Regions from separate parts of the Homo sapiens genome. Here region 1 is linked to region 2. The links come from fine-mapping of genetic effects on gene expression. Tissue or cell type: blood mononuclear cells. Region 2 holds a variant in brackets; the other region holds the start of a gene. All regions are shown on one strand. Distances are from middle to middle. Region 1 holds the start of GUF1 (GTP binding elongation factor GUF1). Region 2 overlaps GUF1 (GTP binding elongation factor GUF1).

Region 1 (13,520 bases), 20 kb before region 2:
TTGAGACGGAGTCTAGCTGTGTTGCCCAGGCTGGAGTGCAGTGGCGCAATCTCAGCTCACTGCAAGCTCCGCCTCCTGAGTTCACGTCATTCTCCTGCCTCAGCCTCCCGAGTAGCTGGGACTACAGCGCCCGCCACGATGCCTGGCTAATTTTTAGTGTTTTTAGTAGAGACGAGGTTTCACCGTGTTAGCCACGATGGTCTCGATCTCCTGACCTCGTGATCCACCCGCCTCGGCCTTCCAAAGTGCTGGGATTACAGGCGTGAGCCACCGCGCCCGGCCTGTCTTACCTAGATTATTAAAATAAAAAACTCTCTTTCCCTTTCATTCTCATCACCTCATTTGATTTCTTTTCATTTTACACATCGTTAGAGAAAGCCCCCTAGAGCAAAAAATTCTGTTATTTCCTTCCTTACGATGGTTTCTGCATAGATTAATGGTGAAATGCTAACTAGTACGTCCCTGTTCAAAGCCCTTCACAAAGTGATACAAACTCTTCTTTCTATGATTCCTCCTCTACCCTATACACTTTCTATTTTGTGATATGAAAATATTTCTAAAGATCAAATTTTTATGCTCAAAATTTGAAAAAATATAAAAGTCTAAAAAACTTAGAATAATTTAAAAATGGGCCTCAAAAGTGAATTGAAAGATGTATTTTATACTGTAGACACATGGTGGCACCATTTTAGCAGCCTAGCAGCAATACTAGAGAACCTTTGTTAATATTGTGTGATTATGCTCTAAAATTGTGCAAGCGCTTTAAATGGCTAATGTGATACTACTTTAATCATTTATTAATGGTATTTTTAGTGCTAGAAATGCTCCACAATATCAATAACTTTGAAACAGAATTTAGAGGTGATAGTTATTTATACATTGTTTTTATTACTCTTTTGTTATGGGCTGAATTGTGTCAACACTTCCATGTTTATATGTTGATGTTCAAACCCCCAATATCTCAGAATGAGACTGTATTTAGAGATAGGGTCTTTAATGAAATAATTAATTTAAAATTATTAGGATTGGCCCAAATCAAATATGACTAGAGTCTTGATAAGAAAATTAGGACACAGACATGTATAGAGAGAAGACCCTGTAAGAACGCAGAAGGTACTGATCTGCAAGCCAAACAGAGAGGTCTCAGAAGAAACCAGCTGTGCTGATACATTGATCTCAAACTCTTAGCCTCCAGAATTGTGAGAAAATAAATATCTATTGTTTAAGCCACCAAGTCAGTCTGTGGTATTTTGTTATGAAAGCCCTAGCAAACTCATATTCCTTTCGGTATATTTACAAATATAGAAACCATACAATAGTTGTGGATTAATGTACTATATGAGTGCAATCTCCATATTATATATTTATTTTTACAGAAAAACTGAGTCTTGATTTATGAGTTTGTAAATTATTTAAGCTCTTCAGAAGTCCTCGCCTCAAATAAAATGCTACTGTCCTGAATGTTGGCCCTGTTCTCTACTGACTATTAACCCAATTTATTGTGTGTTTTTCCGCATTTGTATCCTTGCTCAGCTGAGCCGAGTTTACTGGAGTGGTTAAGGGTGCAGGCTCTACAGCTGGACTGTGTGGACTCACAGCCCTAGTTCATCACTAACTGTGACTCTAGACAGTTATTTAAAAAACGTTGGCCACATTTTTCTTGGAAATCTATGAAACAGAGATAATAAGAGTGCCAGCAATAGAGGGCTCTGTGAAGATCGAATGAATTGATACAAAGTATGTAGAATAGTACTGGGAACTGAGAAAATGTGTTATGCTGTTGATTATTCCTCTGCTTAAGTTCCATTTATTTCCTTGGATAAAAACAAAAAACTGCCTATCCTTCGAAGCACATGAAAGATACCTCCTCTTTGAAGTTCAGTCACTATACCTCCTGCTTCTTCTCAAGTTGAATAATAAAGAAACTTGTGCAAAGATATTGCAAGAGATGAGCTTTAGTTTCCAAAAATTTGGATTCAAATTTTTTTTTGCATTTATCTATCATGTAATTTATCTATCATGTAATTTTAGACATTTTGCTTAATTTGTTTGAGTTTCCACAGCTAGTATATAACCTGACACAGTGGAGCTCAGTATTTTTCTAACAAATATGTTTTTCCATTTGTAGGCTGGGAAACATAATGTCAGCCTTATAAGATACTGCAGTTTTCTAAAGTGTGGGACAAATTCCTGTGGAGGCACCAAGATAGATACAGACATGGTATCAAGGATACTGTGTTATTCAGATAAAGTTTTTCTTTCAACCCTATTTAAATGCTTCTTGCTAGGTCAAAGAGAAAAATCTCAGTTTGAGGCTAATATTTTTAAATTCTTTTCTAATATCTGCTAATCTCCCTTTTGTAATCCAGACAGACCAAACCTACAATTGAATCACATTTTTTATTCACTACAGTTATATTTACTGTTACTCTTATGACAGCTCATCATGCTTTCTCCATTAATGGTATCTACGTTTTCTTTTAAAAAGAATTCATTTACATATAAAGGTAAGTTAAAGAAAAATATAAAGTACATAATATCGGTATGAGGATTGACAAAGATTCTTGACCAAACTCTAGCCTGACTCTTCTAAGCCCTCTTATCAGCAAAGCCTCAAACTTGCCTATAAAAACTACAGACCCTCAGCACAAATGATTTCATCCACATCCTTCCCCTACCGGTTTGCCCACACATTAAAAGACTTGAACAAACTCATATAGTTTATAACAGCTCAAGGCTGCATCTCTAAGATGAAGCCCCCTTAAATTTCTGTCTGAGAAAGCTCAAGACTGACAAAATAATTTATTTGTTCCAGCCAACATGTGAAAGTAGCACTCATTTCCTAGTGTCTGCGGGAAGGGTAGGAGCCTTATTTCCATAAGCAACAGTTTACAACCCAGATGGATTTCAAATGGACCATTCTTCCGCCATTGTTTTTTGTAAATTTCCGTTTCCCTGACTTTGATCAAGCCCAGTTGTTCTCTTTCCCTACTCCCGCATTCTCCTTTTAAAATACAGTCGCCTCTGGACAAATTGTAGTTTAGTTCATTCTGGATCTTATTCCCGATTGCATTAGTATATCACTATAATAAAAATCTGTCTTCACCACTTTAACTGGTGTCTGCCTTTATCTTTGACAGGATATGGTGAAAATTAATGAGGGTAATTGTGCAAATTATGGAAGTCTGGGCAACATTGAATATAAATTATTGTGTTTACTTCAAGATAGTTGTTAAATTCATTCTCTTACAAGTGTGACAGAATTAGTCGTCTATCAAGTACTGTTTTAATTCATAAAAGTTCCAAGAAAGGGCCAGGCGCGGTGGCTCACGCCTGTAATCGCAACACTTTGGGAGGCCGAGGTGGGCAGATCACGAGGTCAGGAGTTCGAGATCAGCGTGACCAACATGGTGAAACCCCGTCTCTACTAAAAATACAAAAATTAGCCATGATTGCTGGCGCGCGCCTGTAATCCCAGCTACTCAGGAGACTGAGGCAGGAGAATCGCTTGAGCCCAGGAGGCGGAGGTTGCAGTGAGCCGAGATAGCGCTACTGTACTCCAGCCTGGGCGACAGAGCGAGACACCATCTCAGGGGGGAAAAAAAAATCCAAGAAAGAACTGAGTCTGGTACAGAATTCTTGATCCTAAGAAATCCTCCAAATGAAGAAACTTTCAAAGGCTCTGGAAACAATACGAATGATTCTGTCTTCAGTCACAATGATGAACTGAACACAGCTGTCATCTCCCTCCTTCGCACCAAATTCTGGATATTCCAGAAAAGCGCAAGAGAAATAGTGGGAGACAAACACTGGATGCAATCCTCCTATCACCTGTTTTATCCCCCATTCTTACTTCGTCAGAGCTCATTCCATGAAGTGGTAACTTGATGACGATGGAAACATTGGGGGTCCAGCATGGAACTTTTTCCCACCTTTACTTCTTGCCAAAACCTTCCTGGATTCAGTATTGCAATCAATGTTATGGCCCGTTTCCTTTCAGATGCACTTCAAGATTAGCTCTGTCACTGACAACATGGGGAATACATTTCGACCTCCAGATTTTAAAAGTGCCATTATTATTTTGCCATTAGGTAGAAGGCTAAGTCTCAACGTTGTGCTAATAATAGCATCTTTAAGTCCCTGGACTAAGACCTCGGCTCCTGGTTCGGGAATCAGACTGCCTGGGCGGCACTCCAGGCTCCACAGCTCCCCACCTGTGAGCTCCTGGGCAAGTCACTCGGTCCGGATTTCCAGAGGTAGTTTGGGGGAACTGACAGTACACACACCACAGGGCAGTAGTAAGAAAGAGACAATGCAAAGGAATTGGCACAGCACTCAGCAGACAATATAAGCTAATATGTACTCTGTCTACACCCTGCGTTTTAGGGAGTCAATCGAAAGCCTCCACTCACGTGACCACTCCACTACCCGGCGCCAAGACGCGCTGATGTCACGACAGCGTGCGGCGTGCAGACGTCGGCAAGCTGCGCCGCCGCTTCGGGTTGCTTCCGGATCTGGTACTTGGGCAGAGCTCCCCGGGGTTCATTGTCTTCGCTTCACAGGATCTGTTTGAGTCCTGTCCACCGGATCCTACGGGGGGTACCTTCGAAAAAAAACGGGCTATGCTGCTGTTGCGTGTGGGTACCCTCTCCTGACGCCTCCGCCGCCCGGGTCATGTGGACCCTCGTGGGTCGGGGCTGGGGGTGCGCACGCGCTCTCGCGCCACGAGCCACTGGGGCCGCGCTTCTGGTGGCCCCGGGGCCCCGGTCCGCGCCGACCCTTGGGGCTGCTCCAGAGTCCTGGGCTACCGACAGGCTCTACAGCTCCGCAGAATTCAAGGTGACTGCCCCCTGGAATCTGATTTAGCCAAGTTTTCAAACGTTGGAGTGCCCCATGCGATCTTGGACATGTATAGGGCTTTCTGGGACTAGCTCTGAACCCTGCTTGCAACTTGGTACAGGGAGGCAGAGCGGAGAGTGTGAGCACTGCTCAGGTTCCCGACCCTCCACTCCTCACTAGTGTGACCTTGGGCAAGTCACTAACTTTGTAGGTTTTCTCATTTTCAATGTCAAATGTTGATTTGTTTACGCGAGCCACTGGTCGAAGTGCTTTGCGTTTATTCATCTATTTAATTCTAAAAAGCCTACTAAGCAAGTTGCTAGTAAATATTAATATAACGTCCATTTTCCTGCAAATTAAGTAGCTATGTGGCCTGGGCAAGTTACTACATTGTCACTCTCCTACTTCATTTGTTGAATGCAGAACTGATCAAACATCCAGTGGCTAATTTGTGAGATTTGTGTGATGTGAGAAGTGGACTTTTTTAGACTAATACCTAGAATGCAGGAAGTTCTCGGTCTGTCTTTGTAGTTTTATTTCATTCTACCTCAGCCAGAGCAAACCTGTGTAATTTTGACTCTGGTGGGAGAGGGTGGGAGGTTCAACAACTCTGATAATTGTGAATGGATACATTTTAGTCAGAAAAGTGAAGTGACTGAAGGCAAGCTATAAGTAGGCAGAAAGACAAAACCTTAAATTAATCAACTTTGGCCCTAATATGCCTGTGTTTTTAAAAATGGATTTATATTGCAATTCGAAGTATAAAGATGGTGCAATTCTCTATACCTTTTGAACTGAAGGGAAAGAAAATCTACAGGGCAAACATCAGAATTAGTTTTTTTTCGGCAGACTTTCAGCTATAATTGTGCTTTTATTATCTGTCTTTATGGGGCTATTAAAAAACAAAGCTCACGTGAATTTTATATTTCATTGTAATTTCATGGTTTTGCTGATTGTGAAATATGCAGTTGATTGGAAAAAAATAGAGTACAAAAAACTGGTATATTTTGCTTGATAACAATTTCTAGCAATTTGTGATGTGTTTCAGTAAAACGTTAAAGAAGATGTGTACACGAAAAACCAGGAGTTCCATTTTAAAATATTTTTAAGTTTTAAGTGATAAGTCTTTTGTTGGATGTCATCTTTTTTTCTTTCTCACCAGAGAAGCTGCAAAGTAGCAAAATTGTATTTAAAATAAAATTTTGAGGCTCCATTAGAGACACAGATTTTTAAATAAATCTGATTCCTGATTAAATGTGTGATAGGAGCAGAAAATTTATCTTCTTTCAGCTTTTCTGTAGCTCCATTGCCTCAAAAGTTTTACTAGACAAGGTATTCTCAGGCCTTTAGAAGTTCTAGGTGTCTCATGTTCTCCATTCACGATAATAAATTCAGTTCCTGATTGGCCCTAAAAATTGTGTAGAAATGTTAAGGGATTATGATTTAGCTGTATAGTTACCTTTGGCTATTAAACTGATGTTCCTTGTAATATGAACTTAGCCATACATGTCTTTTTCTTAGAATAATAATATAAACAATATAAATGCTAGAAATGATATTGTTCAACGATTAAAAGAATATTCTTTGAATTGGTATACTTGTTTGATAGTATGCCAAATTTATACTCCTAAATGTGGTATTTCCCCTTTCTAGGAAAAACTTGACATGTCTAGGTTTCCTGTTGAAAATATTAGAAATTTCAGTATTGTTGCACACGTGGATCATGGCAAAAGTACTTTAGCTGACAGGCTCCTAGAACTTACAGGTATTTCATTTATGTTACATACTTAACTGATGGCTGCGAGTTATTGGGAATTACTTTTACTCTTAAATTTTAATTTTATAAGTAATATTCTCTTTTTTTTTTAAAGCCCAGAGAAATATCAATAAGTGTTTCTGTTTATAGGGACAATTGATAAAACAAAGAATAATAAGCAGGTTCTTGATAAATTGCAAGTGGAACGAGAAAGAGGAATCACTGTTAAAGCACAGACAGCATCTCTCTTTTACAATTGTGAAGGAAAGCAGTACCTTTTAAATCTCATTGATACACCGGTAAGTTTAATATTAATTTTGCATGTATTGTTAAAGTCAACATTGTGTCAGTAGTGCAAACAGATCCTTGTTTAATTTTTGAACTGAGTATTAAACATCTGCCTTTGCTTTTTGTTTTCTCAGTGTTCTTATGTTAGTGTCAGTTGTTTCAAAAGTGCAGGCTACAAAAAAGAAACGAATATTTAACAGCTTTTATCAAGTAAAGTCAATAAATTTGCCATAATGCTCTTTCCTAAAAAATTAACTCACATTTACAGGTATCAATATTTTTGTTTCTCAGGGCCATGTTGATTTTAGTTATGAAGTATCCAGGTCACTTTCTGCTTGCCAGGGTGTTTTACTTGTGGTTGATGCAAATGAGGTAGGTATTTTTCATTTTGTATGATGTGATATGACATGACTATTTGGTTGTTTCAAGAGTTTTTCTTTAAAATGTGTTTTGGAAATAGAATTTTTGTGTTTGAAAAATAGATTTAATCTGTTACTTACTGAAAATCATATGGTTTCATCCTGTTAATCTGAAATATTATTACAATAAAGCATTCTCTGGAATTGACTAGTTTTTAAATTGGAATTGTTCAAAAGATTGTTGTATTTTTTTGAAGTGTGACATCATATTGTCAATGCATCTTACCAAAAAAACCCCACCAACTTTAGCAGTTCTTAATCTGAGGTTTCTATATCCATTTTTAGCAGATCTTAAGAATAAATCATTAGTTTTCAGATCATTTTAGGTGATTTTAAGGCAATAATTTGGAAGTATTAGGTTTTTAAAAAATCAGTAACATTACTAAGCTCTTTTGTTGTGTAAGCCGTAAAGACACTCAGCAGATGACCATGTAAGAGCTGTGAATATAAACTTTTGTTACATGTTTCTCACAAACTCTTCATTCAAAACCCAACTTTTTTTTAGTGGTGGTGGTGACCGTGTTGTGTTAAGCCGTTAAGCCTTTCCTGATCCCATCAAGGAAAGTCAATCTCTACCTTATGTAGGCAGTACTGGCCTTTATAAACTACCTTGATGACTGTGTTCTCTAATAAGCTTTGAGGTCCTTGAGAGTCCATGTTACATCTTTTGTTTCTCCAATGCCTGATGTAGTTTCTGGCACAGAAAAGGCCCTCCAATAAATGCTTTCTGAACTGAAAGGAATTATTACAGAGGATGATTCAGATGCATGGAAAAATAGGTATCATAGTTGAGCTGCCGTGTACCTTTCCTTAAAGGCTTCCTATCTCAAGCTTAGTAGACTGTCTGTTGGCTCACTCTACTTGATGTGATTATTGCTTTACCATCAGCGATTTTCATATTGACCCCAAAGACATAAGTTGGAGAGAAAAGCATGAAGGGTAGCTACATGGCATTTTGTTTAATTTTATTATTAGCATAACGCAAAATCTCTTGATGAAGATGTATAGAATGGTCTTAAATTACAAGTTTTGTGATATATAATAGAATGGTCATCTCAGTATCTTGTATCTTGATATTTTCAGGGAATTCAAGCCCAAACTGTAGCAAACTTCTTTCTTGCCTTCGAAGCACAGCTATCGGTAATTCCAGTTATAAATAAGGTAATTACAATGAGACAACAGTGTTGCTATTTCACTTTCTAAAAGTACAATTAATGTTTAAATGTCAGTTGTACTATTCATTATATGAGGGATCACCAGCTATTTATTAAATATATTGGTGGGATTTATCTCTTTGAATTGTATATAACAGAAGTGCAACTGAAACTCACCCTTGCACAGAATTGAGAAGGTAGTTCTCCTGAATTAACTTGTGGTAGCTGAGGGCCATTTCTGTAGGGAAGGGAAGCAGGGCAGATGAAACATGTTTGTCAGATTAAACCATACATAGGAAAAGAAGAGAAGTTTATAATCTAGGAAGAAACAATACAACACATGAAGCATGACAATTTAGTGCTAAACTGAGCTCTGTCTATAAACTTCCATTTCATATTTTAAAATTAATTTAGAATCTTAATTTTAAAATCTGCATTGCTTTAATTATATTTCTTGATAATGGAGTTAAGTTTAAAAGAAGGCCATAGGTAAGACAGCTTGTTGTCAGACTTAATGTTGTATTTAACTTAACCTTTAAAATCAGTTCACATGCTGCTTAATTGATAAATTACTACTGATCTCTTCTGCTGCCCTGGGTAGCTAACTGCTTAAGTTTTTTTTGCAAGCTCTGCTACTTAACTTCTCTTTTTCAATCATGGTTATTAAATTATACTGCTAATATATAGATTATTTTACTGCTTTTGAAAAAATATTGTAGAGGGGTCAGTTAGGTTAAAGTGGGTAAGCTTTTAATTACCTCCGAATACTGTTAATACATAATACATCTTATCTTTATTATACTTCACATAATGGATTTTTTTTTTTAAAGATAGATCTGAAGAATGCTGATCCTGAAAGGGTTGAAAACCAAATTGAGAAAGTGTTTGATATTCCAAGTGATGAATGTATTAAGGTAAAATACGTTCCTAAAAAGATTATACTTTGAAAAAAGTCTCAAGTAATTGGGCTAAGTGAAATTTCATGGTATTTGATAACCTGGCATTATATGCTGTTTTTTATAGTTTTACAAACTTCTTTTACTATTATTTCCTTTGATCCTTATCAAAAGCCCTTTTTATATTGTTAGGACATACAGAAATTATTGCGATGCTGTAGTTAAAGGAACTGAGGCTCAAAGGTTTTATCACTTTCCTAAGATCACAGGTTTAGTTAGCCAATGTGCCAGGACTAAAACACAGGCCTTCTGAAACTCCCTGCAGTATTTCTTGTGTGTCAGTTTGCCCAGTGGAAATACTGTCTTTGAAGAGCAGGTTCAAACTAATTTCAGGGCTTTTGTATGTATCATTCTTGGAACTGACAAAAACCTATTTTATAAAAAGCTAGTTGTAGTGCTAGGAAACAATAGATTTTATTTATACCAAAGTTGCTACCATTTTAAATTTGAATTTTTATTTACCTTTGAAATGATGATCTGCTTGTTAAACAGCCACAGCCAAACTGCTATACTACATGGTAGTGTAAAGTATGTCAGCACAGCAATGTAATGTTTTTCTTTCAAGCTAATTTAATTTTCAAAAGAGCAAGTTATATATGGTTTTATATTTTGGATTATGTTATATTAAAATACAATTAACTATTCTGATTTTAATCTTAATAAAATTCATTCAGATTCTTATTTGGTATATGCCAGCTAAGAGTATGGCAGTGAATAAGACAGACAAGACCCCTTCCTTTCTGCAGACAGTCAATAAATAAGTAAACAAAGAAGTAAGCATAGGAATTATTGACTAGGATAGAGATTGTCAAGGAAATTCATTCGACAAATTGTTATTATTCTAGGTGAAATACCATCATTAACAGTGAAAAGTCTTTTTTCTTAGAGAGACGTTATGACATGGAATAACTTAGCAAAAGCGTCTCTGATAAACTGAAACGTGGAGGAATGAATAATTTTCAGAAAAACATTCCAGGAAGAGAAAAGAGCATGTGTAAAGGACTTAAATTAGGAAAAGATTTGGCATGTTTACTGATCAGAAAGGTTGATTGGATGAGAAGGCTTTGTAGGGGTATGCAGGAATCAAGTCATGCTGGGACTCGTGCTGTGCTGAAGAGCTTGAAAATTATTCTAAGACAATGGAAGGATTTTAAAGCAAGAGAAACAAATTAACCAGTCATTCAGGTAGCCTTACAGAGAATGGATCAAAGAGGTATAAGAAGAGATACAGGGAATCCAGCTATTAATGGTAGCCCAGATGTGAAATTACTATGGCTCAGTATTAACTATCCATATGAAAAGGAGATTATGATCCAGGAGGAAACAATATACATAAAACATAACAGTTCATTGCTAAACTGAGCACTGTCTACAAACCTCCATTTCATACTTTAAAATTAATAAAGAACCTTAATTTTAAAATCTGCATTGCATTAAATGATGTTTCTTGATTTGGAGATAAGTATATAAGAAGCACAGCTGCCCATAGGCAAGATAGCTTGTTGTCAGATACAAGAAACGAACCAGACCATTTATTTGATTTCTTTTTTCCAGTAATGTTAAGCTGTTCTGTATATGGGCATAGAAAAAACACATAATTGGATGCAGTCAAGGTTGAGGTTTTGTCAGCTGCCTCTAATAAGAAGAGAACAGAAAGTGGTTGAACCAGAGTGAATGTAAATGATGGATCTTGGAGTCCCATCTGGGAAAAGATAGAAACAGAGTGGAGGGTGAAGCTGATGGACAGCATCAAGTAGTATATTCAATAGTTACAAGTTAAGGACTATTGTAAAGAAAGTACTACAGTCTAGAGCAGTAGTTGTCAGTGGTGGGTGGTTTTGCCCCTGGGCAAATATTTGGAGATATTTTTGGTTTTCACATCTTGGGAGGGATGCTACCAGCATCTTGTGGGTAAATGAGGTGCCCTGGTTGCTGCTGAACATCCTGTAATGCACAGGACAGCCTCCCAAAACAAAGAATTATCTGGCCCAAAATGTCAGTAGGGCTGAAACTGAGAAATCCTAGTCTAGAGTGAATGTGAAGAGTAAGAAGTTTGAAGTCAGGATTTCAGAGATAGTCCATTTATTACCAGTGATAAAGGTCAGTCATACCATGTGGCTTGAGTGTTGGCTTGCTTTTCTGGTGTGAGAACACTAAAGTAGTAGTAAGATGCCTTATGGTTTTATGCCATCCACATACATTGTTTATCCACACAACAACCTTGAGATTTAGGCAGAATATGAATAATCACTTCATTTTTTAGATGATGAAATTTATGCTCAAAGAGATAGATACTGGTGAAATACATGGATTCAATGCAAAGACATGATTGTTACCCAGATTTCGAACTATTCCTCTTTCAATACCATAATTAGGACTCTCTTGTAATTCCATTCTAGAACTGTAGAACTACGTAACTATAATAGAAAAAGTATTTGTCAATATACTGTTTGCTTTGTTCTTTTCCTTTTGGTGTATTTCTCAAATTGATAACTATTGGAATTTTTTTTTCCTTCTGATCATAAGTCACAGGTCATCAAGATAGAAAAGTATAGTCTTAACTTTAAATGCTTATATTTTTCACATGTATCTTTTTAGATTTCTGCTAAACTTGGAACAAATGTTGAGAGTGTTCTTCAGGCAATTATTGAAAGAATCCCCCCGTGAGTATTTGGTGATTTTTGTACTAGTTGTCTCTATTTAATAGTTCAAAAACTGTCCATGTTTAATAGTTCAAAGACTGTCAGCTTGAACTGTTATTTTAGCTTAATGGATGTGGCAAATATTCTTGCAGGCAGCGAGAATAAATTTATTTGCTTTTAGTAATACATAGAAGGCAAGTACAGTAAAGTAAAAGAAAAAGTAAAGATGATTGATAGAGGTCTTTTCATGACAATCATTATAAAATATACCTCAGTACATTGGCAGTTATTTTCCTTTGCTTTAAGCTGAACAAATATATTCATAAATAATTTGTTAAAACTAGAGGTTATTAAATCTAATATATTTTATAAAAAGGTCTTTTTATTTAGGCTGTTGTGTATCAAACTTTCTCAAGAACTCAAGTACAATATCTAAGTTGAAAATAAGAATTTTATTAAGATTTTAATTTAGTGTATATATATTTACTTTTTACTTATATTTACTAGTCCTAAAGTGCATCGCAAAAATCCTCTGAGAGCTTTGGTATTTGACTCCACCTTTGACCAGTATAGAGGTGTGATAGCCAATGTAGCATTATTTGACGGAGTGGTTTCCAAAGGAGATAAAATTGTATCTGCACATACTCAAAAGACATACGAAGTTAATGAAGTAGGAGTCTTGAATCCTAATGAGCAGCCAACTCATAAATTGTAAGTAATCTGCATTAGTAAAATTAAAATGCATTTGTATGTGGTTCTATTTCTGCATTTTTCTCAACTTGGTATGCTTAGAATGATCCTCATTTGGTAACTTAAAAAAAACTATTTAATGCAACTATACAGTAAATGCTCTGTCAAGGAATCTCATGGGAAGGACAATAGAAACGTCAGTTGATACTTTTTTTATTCTAAATGACTAGTTATAACTAGATTTATGATCAAGGGTAGATTGGATCCTATATCGATGTATTTGATGAGACAATGAAAGAGTTAGTTCCCTCCACCCATATCCATATTAGGTATCATTTTTGACATTTCTTCATAACTAGATTTTCCAATGTAAAGGTGGTATAATAGAAACCTTAATAAATCTTTAGTGTGGAATTCATGGTAAAACCTTGATTAAAATTCTTGGGGAGTAGGATTAGCAAGGGTAGTGTGCATTAGAAAAACATCTGAATTGACTTGTAAAAGAACTATTTATTGAGTGCCTACTCCGTATCAGGTACTGATGAGGCATGACCTTGGGTACATAATTTGAGCTTTGTAAGGTCCTGTTCCTTGTCTGTAGAAATTATTGAACCAGATGACTGTCAGATCACATTTGAGTGTTTAGTGTTATATGTCTAAAAACAGCACTATATTGAGTCAGAAAGTCTATTTTTATTTTACTGAAATATTTTAACATCTATTTATATTCTGCCATATATACCAAACATTATCACATCTTCATTTAAGGTTCTTAA
Region 2 (16,064 bases):
TTTCTGAATTATAAGTGGTCTTAAAAAGCCTTGTCGTTTGGAAACTTAAATACATTTTGAATTTAATGAGAGAACATGATTTATTTTTGAACTACATAAAAATAAAATATTCCAGCTTCCAGCATTAAGGTAATTATGTTCAAGATGGATGTTTTACATAGGCAGTCAATTCCACACTTAACAGAAAGTCATCATAGACTATGAATTAAGATCAGGAAAAAACTTATTTCATACCAGGAGGCAAGAATCAACAGCAACTAGTAGCTTTTTGGAATTACAAATGTGTTTCCTGCATTCTAAGGAAACACTAGAATACCTATGTTTTCAATAGAGGTTAGGTATCAATTGGACTGCTTGGAAACAAAAACACAATTTTTATAATGATTTCTTTTGAAAAAATGAGTTAAGAAATTTTTAAGATTTTTAATATTTTGGACCACAACATAGCTGGAGCTGTAACAACTTCAAAGTTAAGGACCATGTCTGTTTTATTCTCTATTTGCTTTGTATTCTGTATGATACTTAACATGGTATCTTTCATACAGTAAATGTATAAGTGATGCTTCCTGAAGAAAGAAAGGATTTTAACAGTACTTCTGAAAATAATCTGTTAATAGAGTGTATTATTGTCACTTTATGACCTTCCTGCTGAAAATCTTTAGAAACCAAATATAATTTTGCAAGTCCAGGCACCAATTGTTTTAAAATTAAGACAATAGGAGTATACATATTCTTGTCTGTGATTGGGACAACTTGTAAGCCTAATTGAAATTTTCTTTAGACTTCAGTTTTATAAGTGAAACATTTAAATGTCTGTTTTGACTAACATTACAAGCTTTGACCACATTGTTAAAAGTAATAGCTGAAACTAAGTGCTTGTGTGTGCTAAGCTAGGCTCTGTTTAAACACTTATTATGTACTAGGCATTGCTCTAATTGGTTTACATGTATTAACTCATTTAATCCTCACAAAAGCCCTGTGAAGGGAGATGCAAGCTGAAGAGCCAAATAGGAAATCCAAAGGTCTCATTTATTAATGGCATTTTATGAGTGTCATAGCATTTATTTAAACATAGAGTTGTCATTGGTAATAGAAAGTTAAACAGAAACCCAACTCATGAATCTGAAAATGATCCATTAATAATATATAGTATTGTCCGAAGCCTCCCAGCTGCTGGGAACATTGGGAAGGCATGATATTTGTCTTCAATAAACCATTTTCTTTGTCAGGTTCACCAGCTTATTTTCCTTTCCCCTATAAACATATTCCCCTTGCTTTTGCCCTTGATTTAATAAACATAAAAAGATAACATTTAGATCCATTCACAAGAAACTGTATATGTAATATTTTGATGGAAACATATCTCTTTGGGGAGTGTAATGCGGTAGAAAGTAGACATTTAGTAAAGAGTAAAGAGTAATAAAGGTAATCTCTCAGGAAGTGTAATATTTATCACTTGGACTTTTTTCCTTTTAGTTTTGATTACGAAGATGCAGGCTACCAGACTGCAGAACTTGTAAAAATGGATATTCTACTGAATGGAAATACTGTAGAGGAGCTAGTAACTGTTGTACACAAGTAAGTTCAATAGAAACTAATCATGGAATGTGAAAATACTTTTGATATGTTTTTCATTTATTTTTGTTTGAGCAGCTGCATTTAAAAAACTTCTAAGGTAATTAAAATAGAGTTCACCCTACTAACTTTGCTTTCTCTTTTTTTTCCACACTTCTCTCTAGACTGCTAAAAATAGAACAGAGCTATAATAGTCAAAAAGAACAGTGTCATAGAAATGTTTCCCTTCACCATATTAAAAAAAGTTTTAAACATTTTATAATGATGGATTTAGAATTGGGAACAAGTTTTTTTGTTTTGTTTTGTTTTTTTTTTAGATGGGAGTCTCATTCTGTTGCCAGGCTGGAGTGCAGTGGCGCAATTTCTGCTCACTGCAACCTCCGCCTCCCGGGTTCAAGCAATTCTCCTGCCTCAGCCTCCTGAGTAGCTGGGACTACAAGCGCATGCTACCATGCCCGGCTAATTTTTGTATTTTTAGTAGAGATGGGGTTTCACCATATTGGCCAGGATGGTCTCGATCTCTTGACCTCTGATCTGCCCGCCTCGGCCTCCCAAAGTGCTGGATTTACAGGCGTAAGCCACCGCGCCCTTTTATATTTGTAAAAAAATTATAAAAAGGAAAACCCCCACGTGTTCAAGAAACAGCAGATTGGTTAAAATGAATTACAAAGCACCCATATTGTTATTTTCAGCCATTAAAACTTGTGGAGTAATATTTAGTGACATAAAAATGTCTGTTAAATATAAAGAGGGTAGAATATATCGTAAACACTGATCATACAAAAAAATGCAAAAAAGTGATTAGAAAGATAACTGTTTAAAATAATCATTCCAAAATGTTTAACCGTTTTCAGCGGGTAAGGAAAGAGAATCAAGAACAGTTTCTATTGTCTAATGTTGTATTTCTAAATATTCTGTAATCATACATTACTTTTTTAAATCAGAGAAGTTGTTCATGATTCAGAGAGTAAGAGAGATTTATAAGTAAGTTCCATTTGAACCTCCTTAAGAGATCACCTTTACACTGATTATGCAACTGGCCTAGAAAAATACTTGAAATATTCTTATTTAGGATATATAAACAGTTGTATTTTTCTGTCTCAGAGACAAAGCTCATTCAATTGGCAAAGCCATATGTGAACGGCTGAAGGATTCTCTTCCTAGGCAACTGTTTGAGATAGCAATTCAAGCTGCTATTGGAAGTAAAATCATTGCAAGAGAAACGTGAGTTGAAATTCATTTTTGGTCTTGAGCCAGTTTCAGAAATGATATACCTAAAAAGTGAAAGAATATTGAACATTTTAATTTAACATTGGCCTAAGCTTTCTTACTTGTAGAAACAGTATGATGGTGCTCTCCAGTTTTCTGATTTAAGTAATGACTGTTACTTTGAATTACTTATATAACAGCACTGGGTGATGTGATCTGCAGTTAGTATAACGTATACGAGTTTGAGGAACTGTTTTAATTTCCACTCATATCAATGTCTATACTGAATTTCCTGGGTAAGGAATTTCTTTTATGGTTTTATCCCTTTAGGTAGATTATAGATTAATAGAAACTGAAACTAAAAGGTTTTGTCTTCCAAATGACAAAATTACAATTTTTTTTTAACCCAAAGCATTTAATATTGCTTCCCCACTTCCGCAGAGCTAGGGAGGTTATAAATCAAGGAATGCCAATACCATGTTAGGATTTGCATTCTAGATTAGGGACCTCACATGAATTATAGTAGATATGGAAGACAGGCTAATTTGTGTCGGACACTAGTCTTTCATGAAATGTAATACATAAATCAGAACACTGGCTGGGTGTGGTGGCTCACATTCTGTGATCCCAACTACTTGGGAGGCTGGGGCAGGAGTATTGCTGTGAGACTAGTCTGGGAAACATAGTAAGACCCAGTTTTTTAACAAAAACCCAAAAATAACAATGAAGAACACTGAATAAGCTGCTCTGCTTGTGACAGCAGGTGCAGGATGTGTCTTGTAGCACTTCCCATTTCCTTTCCTTAATGATCCTAAGACTTCTAGGAAATAGGAAGTATCTCCTCAGTTATGAAAAGCTGGAAATTGCTATTAAATTCGACCTTAACCCAAACCTAATGAGGAAATACAACCATCATGTTAATATAGACTTGAGGTTAATTTTAGGCCCACTGTTTGAAATACATTTCATTTCCTAACACTGTTTTGCTTTGGTTAGTTATTCTGTGTTTTGTAAATACTGAGATCAGGCAGAGTAGAAATGATAACTAGGGAACATCCTGGAAAGTGCAATTTAAGACAGTTAGCAATTGCTCATTCTAAAATAAGTGTGTTGAGATAATACCTTAAAAAATTGGTTTTTCTGTCTTAAGGAATACATAAAGATGGAGCTATTTTCAAAATTAGAGTGATCTAGAAATTTCTCAAACATTGTAGAAATAGATTAGTTTATAACTGCTGGGGTGGATATATCAAGCTTCCTAGCCACTCCATCCACATTCAGTAGAGGCAGTAATAAGATAATAAACATATTTTGTTTTTCTGAAGTAGTAGTGTTAATTTTTAGATTGGTAATTTTTAGATTGAGTAAAAAATAACCTAATGTATTTCTTGTAATCAAGGTCACATCATGCTTGAATTTGGCCTAATCAAGCCTACCACAAGCCTTGACCATTTTTTCTTAATGTGTGTTGATAAACATGTTGAATTTATTTGTTCTTTTATACCAAGTACATGAAAATAAATACAAGAGCATTTGAAGTATCTAATTAATATGCTTATGGCAATTTTACATAGGTAATGATACTATCATTAAAATTTTCTAGTAAAGGGGAGATTGTTTTTGGTAAGGAAGTGCTTTTAAACAGTATAATGGAATTATGTACTTAAACGAATTTTTCTCTTTTACAGTGTGAAAGCCTATAGGAAAAACGTTTTGGCAAAATGTGTATGTATCTAGTTGTATTTATTCTACTTTATAACTTTTATGGGCTTTAAATCAAAGGGGGCATAAACTTATTGATTTCCATTGTTGGTTTTTATACATTCTTTGTTTCCAAGTTCCCTTTTTGAATAGGTAAATTTCAGCTTGACCATGGCAACCTGTTCATTTTGCCCATATCTTTTAAGTATTTTTTCATCTTATTTATAAAAATTTACAAAAATATTTATTAAAATTGTTCTTATATGTAATACTAAGGAAGATTTTTACAACAGTTATTTCTATGATCTGGGTAACATGTTTTCTTGATCTAACATATAATGAAAGATTTTGAAAACAATGGCTTTATCTTACAGTTGAAGTCTACCTCTCCTGACATTGTTTTGCCAGTTTGCTGTTATTCAGCTGTTAAAAAATTATTCTTGCACCAGCTCGGTGGCTCACAACTGTAATCCCAGCACCTTGGGAGGCCAAGATGGGCAGATCACTTGAGGCTAGGAGTTCCGAGACCAGCCTGGCCAACATGGTGAAACCGCAGCTTTACTGAAAATACAAAAATTAGCCAGGCGTGGTGGTGCATGCCTGTGATCTCAGTTACTCGGGAGGGTGCAGCATGAGAATTGCTTGAGCTCAGGAGGCGGAGGTTACAGTGAGCAGAGATCCTGCCATTGTACTCCAGCCTGGGTGAGAGGGAAACTCTATCTCAAAAAAAGAAAAATTATTCTTAAATATCGTGAGAGTTGAATGATCAATTCTTTCTCCAAAGGCACATTTATTCCTATGTGATTAAGAGTTACCTATATTAGACTGTGGCTTTCTAGTCAAAATTCCAAGCCTAGAATCAGTAAGGAGATTGATAATTCTTCCTTGACATGCATATTATTATACTAGGTTTCCTTGGGAATCTTCACCTCCATCCAGATTAAATCCTGTATCATTCTTTGAGAAGACAGTAAAATTAGATCTGCTAGGAAGATTAGAGAGATGTCTGCCTTATGGATAATAATTTGGTATGGTTGTTAAGGTTGTACTGATGCCGCTGTAATCATATGATTGTTTCTCTTTAGAGTGACTTAGACTTCCAATGTTTTAAAATATTTTTCAGTATGGTGGTGATATTACCCGAAAAATGAAGCTTTTGAAGAGACAAGCAGAAGGGAAAAAAAAGCTGAGGAAAATTGGCAACGTTGAAGTTCCAAAAGATGCTTTTATAAAAGTTCTGAAAACACAATCTTCTAAATAATTGGTGGGAAAACAAAGAATTTTCATTGCAATTTGTAATATGCTGACAACAGAAAGAAAATTATAAAATTTGCTTGTTACTTTCAGGGTATTCAGGTTCAAATAACCTACTAGTCTTTCGTTGAAAGGGAGTAGTTAGTGGGTAGGCAAGAGCTTAGATTTTGAAGCCATGTTGCCTGTTCTCAAATATCTGTTCCAACCACTCACTAGTAAGGTGACCGTGGCCAGATTAACCTTTGTTTCCTCTTCAGTAAAATCGAGATTATACTACTACCTACATAAGTTGTTGTTGTGAAGATTAAATGAGGTAATACGTTAAATATTCAGAGGTGCAAGACACATAGTAAGCACTCAATTGTAACTACAGTTAAGTCCTTAAATGCCATCGAAAGGTTCTTAGAAACTGACTTTAAGCAAAATGACACGTAGCACAATGTTCTTGAATGATGTCATTTCCTTAAGTGGTTTGTAACATCGATGAGGAAAAAAAATTGGTTTATGCGTCATTTCATTTTATTTTTATTTATTTTTTGAGACAGAGTCTTGCCCTGTCGCCCAGGCTGGAGTGCAATGGCACAATCTCGACTCACTGCAACCTCTGCCTCCTGGGTTCAAGAGATTCTCCTGCCTCAGCCTCCATTACAGGCGTGCACCACCATGCTCGGCTAATTTTTTGTATCTTTAGTAGAGTCGGGGTTTCACCATGTTGGCCAGGCTGGTCTTGAACTCCTGACCTCGTGATCCACCCACCGTGGCCTCCCAAAGTGCTGATTACAGGTGTGAGCCACCATGCCCAGCCATGTCATTTCATTTAAAGTCACAATTTCCATGAATCTCAACAAGTGAGGACCTGCTATATTTTGTTGCATGCAGTTTTTCTTTACGGACACTAAAAGGCCCCATACTTAAGATTCCATCTACTTTAAGTTTAAAGGATTTTCAGAATCACCTTAAGTGTCAAATTTGTTAGCAGGATTAATTGATATGAATTCACTTATTAAACAGTAAACTCAAATAACATAGACATCAAATAACAGACATCTGCTCTAGTTAATGATAAAATGTTTATAGATTTTATCAGGTGGTTAGTTTGAAACTAAATGGTTTACATCTAAATTAAGGGCAGGAGCTGTCTTTCAGACATTCAAAACGCATTTGTGTAAAATGACAGGTGTTTGGTATTACCAGGAACTCATAATGACATTTTAATAATTATTGTCTAAATTTCATAATCGAAGCGATTTTAGAGTAGTTAACTTGAGATTTCACAGCCAGTAAATGGCTGTATTTCTCCAGAGCTCTCAGCTCCCATGTTTATTCAGCCAACGAACAAACCAGACTGCAGACTGTATTAGAGCAAGACAACATCATTTAGCCATTGATTTTTATCTTCTACCTTGAATGAATTGAATGAAGAAAATGTCTTTTAGGGATAAACACTATCAAGGATGAATTTTATACTAAGGTTATATGAAAGAAAAATCTCAAAACCACTAAGCCAAAGGGAAGTCAAGCTGGGAACTGATTGAGGCAAACCTGCCTCCCATTTTATTCCTAAATAAGACAGCCACAAAGATAAAATTTGCTCACAAGGGAATTCCTTATGGACAAAGAACTCAAAGTCTTCACATGAAACAAATGCATAAATGATTGCTTTCTCTGTTTCATGTTTCACTAAGCCAGATTAAGGTATAACTGACTATTCCTCTACTCTCCTCTCACATGTAAATTGTATATTCAGTGAAAGGCTAATCAGAAACTCAAAAAAATGCAACCCTTTCTCTCTTACCTGCCTATGCTTGAAGCCCCCGCCCCTCTTCAAGTTGTCCTGCCTTTCAAGACCAATGTACACCTTACACATACTGATTGATGTCTCATGTCTCTCTAAAATGTGTAAAACCAAGCTGTGCCCCAACCACCTTGGGCACATGTGGTGAGGACCTCCTGAGGCTGTGTCATGGGCACACCTTAACCCTGGGAAAATAAACTTTCTAAACTGACTTGAGAGCTGTCTCAGATATTTTGAGCTTACAGTTATTGTGAAATCATTTTAATTATAAATTAAGTGGAGATTTACTTAAAATCATGTGTAGAAGTAGCCTGTGATATAGTCCTAGATACATACATTATCATCTTATGTATCTTCCCTCCCTCTTCCAGGTTCTGATAAAAACAGATGAAATCTGAAAGACCATGACAGTAGTATTTTGAAAATGACAGTATTTGAAATTAAAAAATTGTAAAAGTGTTCTGTTCTATCACTGCCAAAGGATAAGTTACAAATTGGTTCTTGGAACGTAATATGTACTATGTGCTTGCTATTTAATAATTTACCAGTCTTAGTCTTTTTTATTCAGACTAATTTTACCTTTTTTTAACCTATGACTCTTTAGTTATAGTAGTACAAAAAAGTAGTTTTAGTTATAGTTTTAGTTGTAGTACAAAAAAGCATTTTCTGTAAGCTTAATTTCTTTCCCCTTCCCGCTTTCCCAGTCAGATGACTTTAGTGATTTGGAGTTGTGTGCTTTATAAGTGCATTCCTCAGAGGACTTAATATTACTAAGATTTTAGCAAACACTGAAATATGTTTAAACACTGTTATCAATATTAAAATAGCACCGTTTATTGACTTTAATATGTGACAACCACTGTGCTGAGCTATGTATGCTTCCCTTATTCAATCTATGTAAAAATTTTGGGGAAGTAGCTGAGACTTTTTTATTTCCCTGACAGAGCTGGGATTCAGTGGTTGGTTTCTTGAAAAAGCTAGGTTCTTTGCCTAACAGCAGCTTAGCTCCTCAATTTAGGGAATGAAAGCAGGAATGAAAATGGCCAGAGTTTTCGCTCCTCAGCTTGTGGAGGAGCTTGAGTACATGAACCTCA[ACTAAGCCC/A]CTAACATCAAGGGAAGGAAAATGGAAAGGAGAATTTTTAGACCTTTAAAGCAGAGAAATTACTGGTGAATCATGTAGCACAACAGGTACCTTTAGCTTTTTCACTGTGATGCTGTATGACTTTCTAAGGTAGTCAGCATAGTTTGTAGTAAATGATTCTTATTACTGGAAGTGTAAGTGGAGTGTTACTCACTAGTTATTTAAAAAACATTTATAAGGCTATTAAAACATCATCTGGAATTAAAGCAGCATAATTTACCCCATCCCCCACTTTTAACCATAAAACCCTATTACCAATTTTATTTCATTAATTTATTTGCTATTTTAATATTTTAAGAAACTACATTTTAATCACATAGACAAGCAGATAAGTAAGGCTTCTTCTACCAGGTGGGCTTATGAAATGCAAAATAAGCAAAAGGAGCATTTTTTTGCTCCCCACAGAGGCAAAGACATCTTTTAACCTAACTCTCCTAATGCATGATGGTAACAAACCCAAAATGAATGCAGGTTCACATGTACTATAATTGTTGGGAGTCGAATGCATGTATTCTTCAGGTTCACTTCTGGAAATTTAGATAACTTATTTATTACACGCTTTATTTGAGTTAAAGATAAAAAACAATATACTTTTATGTAAATTGCTATGGCAATGTAGTTTACAGTAATTCCTTTTATATATACTTCGTATTATTCTTTTAGACATTTTATAAGGAATAAAGCTAATTGTATATTAAGTTTAACAATAATCAGAAAATATTCTCCAAAAGAATTTCCTGAAGTGGCTTGCTAGGTATAAAGCTCATAATTGTCAAGATACTTATATTAGGGACATGAACCCAAGTCGTTAAATAAAAATAAGATATTTGTAAAAAAGTGCTATAGAAGAAGGTGCACAAAAAACATGCACTTACACATACTTTCCAAAAGGATGTAAACTGTACTTTTAGGCACTGTCATCTCTTCAAATTTCCTTTACCAATGATATATAGCACAATTTTTGATGTCTAGATGGTGCTGTAGGAAGATGACTAAGGCAACCACGTGCAGAAAAGCATGTGTGTGATGCACAGAAAATATAAAGATTGCATTCCAAAAGTGAAGGTCTGCAATGATAGTTTGTTATCTGAAAGGTTTGGAGTGTCTTGTCATTAAAAAATGAAATATACGCCACTGGAGTCATATCACAAATGGTGCCTGATGTGGACACTCTACCTTTAAAATGACTTTTTAAACAGGCAGACATTTCTATGCTGTTTTATAGGTGGCTATGTGACTTCAGTACTTTATAATAAATAGCCAGTCAATCTTGAGAGCCAGCTACTTCTCTTAAACCCAAGTACAAGATATAAATATTCAAAATATGGAATGTTTAACATAGAGACTCGAATGAAAAAATGACAATCTTCAAAATTCCCCATGTTTTGTCATATTGCATAGCTGAAAATTCATCTACTACTTAGTAAAAAGTGCTCTGTTCATTCAAGCTGAATTTTGCTCCAGTCTCCTTCAGTTTCCATCTTTCATACTGAATAGTGGATCCACAAGTTTATTGTGCACATGCATTAGACCTTAAAGAAAAAAAGCACAGTTCTAGTTGTTTTTATTAATTTTGAACTATCTCATTTACTTTAGACAACAAAGTATTTTTTATAAGACACAGTAAGCCTGTTTAGTTCCCATCTTGATATAGTCAAGTTTATTGAAAAAGTACAAATAGAAATGTTTCAGAATGTCTTAAGTTTTATCTACCTAGCAAATACCAATTTATAATTATGTAACAGTGCAGATCTAGAATGTGTACAGGTACTTTGGGAGTAACCAGAAGAGCATTTCTTGTCTTCAAAGAGATTAAGCATGACAAATTTGAATACTGACTTAGATAATAGGTTTTAATTATATCTAAAAGTCTATGTTGATATTGATCCTCTGGCAGTTCCTCTACTAGACTCCAGCCAGGGGCTCAGAACTGCTGTCTCACTCTTAATACATTACCCTATCCATTCGTCTGGTAAATTACTTTCCAATAGTTTGGCATGTGTATTTATGACAAAGGTTGATTACAAATTCTACACTGAGGGAGGGTTACTAAAACAAGACAGAAAACAACCTGTATTAAATCATTTAATTCAGAATAGAAATTACGATTTTAAATCCGGTAGATTATAACTTTCATTTTGTAATTGGTACATATACTTGCAGACTGCTCTTAGCTATGGAAGCTGCTTGGGAAATAGCTGATCTTCCAGTTACTCCTGTTTTAATGCCTCAGTACTATATTTCTTTGGGGAGAAAAAAGTTCTAAAAAGACTGACCCAGTTAATGAACCAGAGATTTTATATTTTGGAGGGTAAAGAAATGAGTTAAGTTTTCCAGGTATTAAGAACATGGGAGGGTGGGGAAAGGCACTTAATGCGGTTTTGCAGGAAATGGGATTACTGGATTGGAGAGATAGGTTGCTTGTTAGTAAACAGATGTTCCTTGTCAGAAAGGCTGCAAAAAGGACTCTAAAATCCCAGCTTTGAGAAAGACCCACTTTTAAGGGACAAGCAAAGAGTACTGGGAAGTGTTTGTGTAGTAGGAGAAATTCTAACCATAAGAATGGGACTCTAAAGGAGGGAAGGGGGAAGCATTCCATTCACTAGTCCTGCAACTGCTCAACAGCCTACTTGAAGGTCACCTGAAACTTCATGTCCAGTAGGAGAGGGGACAACAAAGATAAGGGTAATATCAGCTGTATGATTTAGAAGATGCAACATTTTCCAGAGTATCACTTTGTAGAGGATCGTTTTTCTACTTAAATAGTATTCATCTGTCATTTGCTAACAACTTTGATTACGGAAAGAATACACAGAGCTTTAAAATACATGCAAATTAAAATATCAGTAAATATTAAAAATTCAACTCCTTTATAAAATTTTTTTCTTTACATTGGATATATCTTTTATACATCAAATAGGACTGCTTCCAAACTAGAAATAATTATTTTGAAAATTCTATTAATTGCTTTTTAGATATTAAGTCAAATATTTACTGTGACTTTAGGTAAAAACTGACAACTTTCTACATACGAATTTTATATAAATAAATAATTGCTACTTAAGTCAAACAGAAATAATTCTTCTGATAAAAATGCACCAGACTTCCTGAAACGTTACCAGAAGAAAGGTTAAATGTCACAGATTCTAACCAATGTCTATACAAAGTAACTTTTATGGTTTTGACTCAAAATGAACTCATTCTACCTTTGTCAAACTACTGAGGTGGAGCCTAAATACAAAGTAAGAGAAAAAAATTCATGATGATGATGTCATATACTAAAAATCAAAGCTGTTCTATTTAAAAAGCAAAAATGAAAAGCGAGAATGAATAAAACAAATCCCCACGTACTAAACTTGTTGTCTTGTGATTAACTTGTATCTTTCAAAAGGTATATACCGTTATATAGGTATATATTGAAATAAACTTGCATTTACTGACAATTTTTATTGTTTTGGATCTAGTTAACCTAGATCTTATCTAGGCACTAAATAAAACCCTTTAAGATTCTGGTCAGCACTTTTTAGTGATGACAGAAGAAAGGGTAGTGATGTGAATGGAATTTGAAGAGTTATGGATGACAATTATAGGAATTTACATCCTCCAGTATTTTGATATACTAGTAACTCAATGGAGGTATGAAAAGTATACAAACTACATTTGAAATGTGTTTATTTAAGAATATTCAATTTCTCTACCCTTTACTAAAATGCTGTAAAATGAGGCCCATATGTAGCCCAGAATGTCTAAATTCTGTCTTCATATTGAAGGAGGTATCCTAACAGGCTGATACCCTGAAACCTCTTCAGAAATACAGACAGCTCCAAAGTGGAAAATACTGTGTCCTCTTGATGCAGTGCAGCTATCCTCTCACGAATGGTCTGTTTCAAAATTTTTCAGAAGAGCTTACAATTAGATGAACTAAAAGAACTAAATACATATAAACATCTACCACCCTTCTATTTTAAATTATCTAACATATGTCGATATACCTTTTTTGGAAGCAGTGATTATCATATGGGAAAAAAGCAGATGGAAATATGGTTTTGATGTAGATGGTATCATACCTAGAGTTTATTCTGGGAGGCAGTATAATAGAATAGACAAAAGCCTGCATACTCCAGAGATCAGCCTGATTTTGATTTCTATTACCCAGCTCTGCCCAAATATGTGCTGTATGACTTTGGGTAAGTAGCTTAACGTCTCTGTCTGTTAAGCCTATTAATTTAAAAATGGGACTATGAATACCCATTTCATAACATTTTTGTGATAAGTAAATCAATAAGTAAAATGCATTTAGAATAGTGCCTGGTCATAGAGATACTGGCTGTTATTAAATATCTTATTAAATATTCACCAAGATATAAAAATCTGATAAAAACCTAATTGTGACAAAATTAGATTAGTACAGGGATTTATCTGGGACTTAATGAGGACTAGAAAATGGCCATGTTAAATGAATCTCCTTAAAACTGGAATTAAAATTTGTGGATAGTGAGGATTCCTTGTAGTCAAGGAATCTATTATTTGGGATGAAATCTGAAGGGTTACATGGGAAAATAGAGTTAAAACTCCATCAAATGCTCTTTTATTCACAAATCAGAAATTTTTCAGTTTTTCAGTTTTTCAGTTTGATATATTTGTGGCTTGGTAAATTAGTAATTTAAATGGTAAAAATATAAATGACTAGAAATAATCTAAGTGTTAATAAGGAAATGTTTAAATAAATTATGATTTATGTACTTAACTATCCATTAAAATGCTTCCAAATATTTAGTAAAACAGGAAAATGCTCATGAAACATAAGTACAAATACAAAACTATATACAAAGCATGATCAGCATTTTGTTTAAAAATAGACTATTTTCAGTGCTTGCCAAATGTCAGTTATTTGTATAACACCTTCAAGATATTTGCCATATTCACACATATACATGAAATATGAGTTGGTTTTCTTTGCATTGAATTAAAAATTTAAGATTATATACTTTATTTCTGAGTATGAGATGCTATAAATTGTAAGACACACCATTTTATGTACCACTGAGAAAAAAATGCTACCCAGTAAGCTATGATCTGACACCAGTTTTAAGACACAGTCCAACATCAGCAAGATCAACGTGTATTAGAGCCAATCAAATATGGTAGCTTTTTTGGACCTTGTCTTAAGCAATAATATCCAAAAAATATAGCTTTGATTTATTCAGTGTATTTTCCAATAGGCATTAAAATAAATACCTAGTTACTAGAGTAAAAAAGATTAAAAGGTATAATCATGTAGCAAAAGTAGCATACATACTACATAGTGAATCACTGACCTATCTATATGATCAACTATGTAACTTTTAATATCAGCTATGTAAATACAGGTGCTTTATGAAAATTACCTGTTTGTACAGTTTGCTTACATATGTGTAATATGTGGAGCTGACTCTTAAATCAGAGAATAGGTTCTACATTGGGTATAGGCAAAATGTCCCTTGAAAATCTCTTAAAACCATTATATCAAGCATATGTGTTTTGTAATACACAGCCTGGTAGAGTAAGGTTTCTGAATTACTGAACTAGACTACAGGAAAAAGGAAAATCAACATGAAGTCTGGGCAATCAAACTCCTGCTTACTTGCAGAGTTTATTCCATACTATTTTAACATTTAGACATTATAACTTTAATATATGGGAATAAATTGGCTTAAAATTGTAAAGATTAAATTAGATAGTGGGAGATCTCTTATCCACTGATTAGGTTCTAAATTAAGGTTAGAGGGGAGTGAGGAAGAGGGATTGAGGTGGGACTAGTAAACATGAAAAGAAATCCAGAATGGACAAAGATACATTTTCTTTTGGGTTATTTGGTCTTGTATATTCAATATGAAAGTAAATTATTAAACCTTGGATTTCAAGAAAAATTGTTTACTGAAAATAGAGACTGAAGAGATTCTCTTCATGAAAAAAAAAAAAAGGTACTACTTTGAAGATACTATTATCTGAGGTGAGAACTTTCCATTACTTGAAAGAACTAGCTATGTGTTGCCACTTTTCAATAGGTCACAGTGTGAGATTTAACCCCACAGTCACAGTAAGTTTTAATTGTCACTCACAACAGATTATCTCAGTCGGCTTTTGAAATTCAGTGCTCACCTTTAAAGTATTTCACAGTTTTAACTCTTAATTCTAAAGTAGCATCTTCATCGCATACAAAAATAGTCCGGGGATGCTGCTGGAAAGCGGAAACAGTCCACATGTGATTGACTCCTTCTTCTATTGCTTTGTACAGGGCAAATGCCTTGTGTGCCCCTGTTATAAGGATCATTACCTGAAAAATTATGAACATCAATTGTTAAAACTTGTTCCAAATGAGTAAGAAGCTCTATTTTTTTTAAACGAGAACTTAAGCACCAATATTTTTTTCTGAGAGAAAGAAAAATACATAGCTCCACATAATAGTTCAAGGTATTCATTTCTACTTTTTAAGATTAACAAGCACAAAATGTTGCTTCTAGTTTAACAAAGCAAAACAATATCTTGTTATGGGTTATTAATGCAAACACTATAATACCTGTAACTTTTAACATAGTGAATGATGATGTATAAAAGAAACCTGGGACAATGAAGAAAAAGAAACAAAAGGACTGTGTTGCAAAAGCAGAGTTACAAATCTATAAATAATTTATACAATCTAGAATGATACACCAAGTTGCTGTAGTCTAGATAAGCAAAAGATACTATGTCAGAAAAGCAAAGACTCTAAAACAACAGGTAATTTGAAGAGTTATCAAGAAAAGCCTGAAGAGCATTTCACTGAACATGTGCTATTCAAAGTTGACTCAGAATAAAAACTGGATTTAAAAAAGGATTAGGGATCTACTTAAACATAGGAACTGTCTTATAAGCACATAGGAACTGTCTTATAATCACATATGACTGATATTACCCTTATAAGCTACAGAAAATCCAAGCTCTTGGTCCCCAGGCCCTAAATGCCAATGAAATAATGCAATGACATGTTGCAAATGTGAATGTGTATGTGTCGGAATCTTTTCTTTATCATGTTTAAGCTGGAAATTGATCCCATTTAACACCTCATCTACACACATATTTTTGTAATATAATCTTTAAACTTTTTTTCCTCATTACAATTGTTTTAAAAAACAATGTTAAAATTGCTGTAGTTCTAAAATATAACAAATTTTGTATTACATATTTTATAACTAGACCTAAAATGGGAGGAAATACTCTGCACTCTCCTTGAATTACCTCAACTCCTCAAAACACCACCATGAGAGAAATACTATTCTTACTCATATTTTAAAGATAAGGAAACTGAGGCATATTCTGTAACTGGCCCAAGGTTTTGGTAAGATACAAACAAGTAGTTTTTTTCTACAG

The links. PIP is the estimated chance that this variant, and not a neighbour inherited with it, causes the effect.
Region 1: GUF1 starts here. The variant in region 2 is fine-mapped to the expression of GUF1 in blood mononuclear cells (TOPMed, PIP above 0.99). The same link has a PIP of 0.9 or more in esophagus mucosa, fibroblasts, lung, pancreas, subcutaneous fat and thyroid.

Annotation. Positions count from the first base shown.
Region 1 is chr4:44,673,949-44,687,468 of GRCh38, forward strand. It overlaps GUF1 (GTP binding elongation factor GUF1), which reads left to right and starts at 4,472. Exons shown (of 17, transcript NM_021927.3): 1 at 4,472-4,839; 2 at 6,493-6,604; 3 at 6,746-6,894; 4 at 7,175-7,255; 5 at 8,386-8,463; 6 at 9,287-9,370; 7 at 12,011-12,075; 8 at 12,562-12,765. The coding sequence starts at 4,675. RefSeq lists an enhancer at 3,691-4,579 and a silencer at 4,651-4,810.
Region 2 is chr4:44,692,936-44,708,999 of GRCh38, forward strand. It overlaps GUF1 (GTP binding elongation factor GUF1), which reads left to right. Exons shown (of 17, transcript NM_021927.3): 14 at 1,477-1,578; 15 at 2,680-2,799; 16 at 4,473-4,509; 17 at 5,609-7,993. The coding sequence ends at 5,746. GNPDA2 (glucosamine-6-phosphate deaminase 2) reads right to left here. Exons shown (of 7, transcript NM_138335.3): 6 at 14,817-14,991; 7 at 8,860-10,207. The coding sequence ends at 10,146. Among named protein-coding and RNA genes, the nearest start is that of GUF1, 23 kb to the left of the region's middle. The variant ACTAAGCCC/A (reference allele first, on the strand shown) is at 8,629.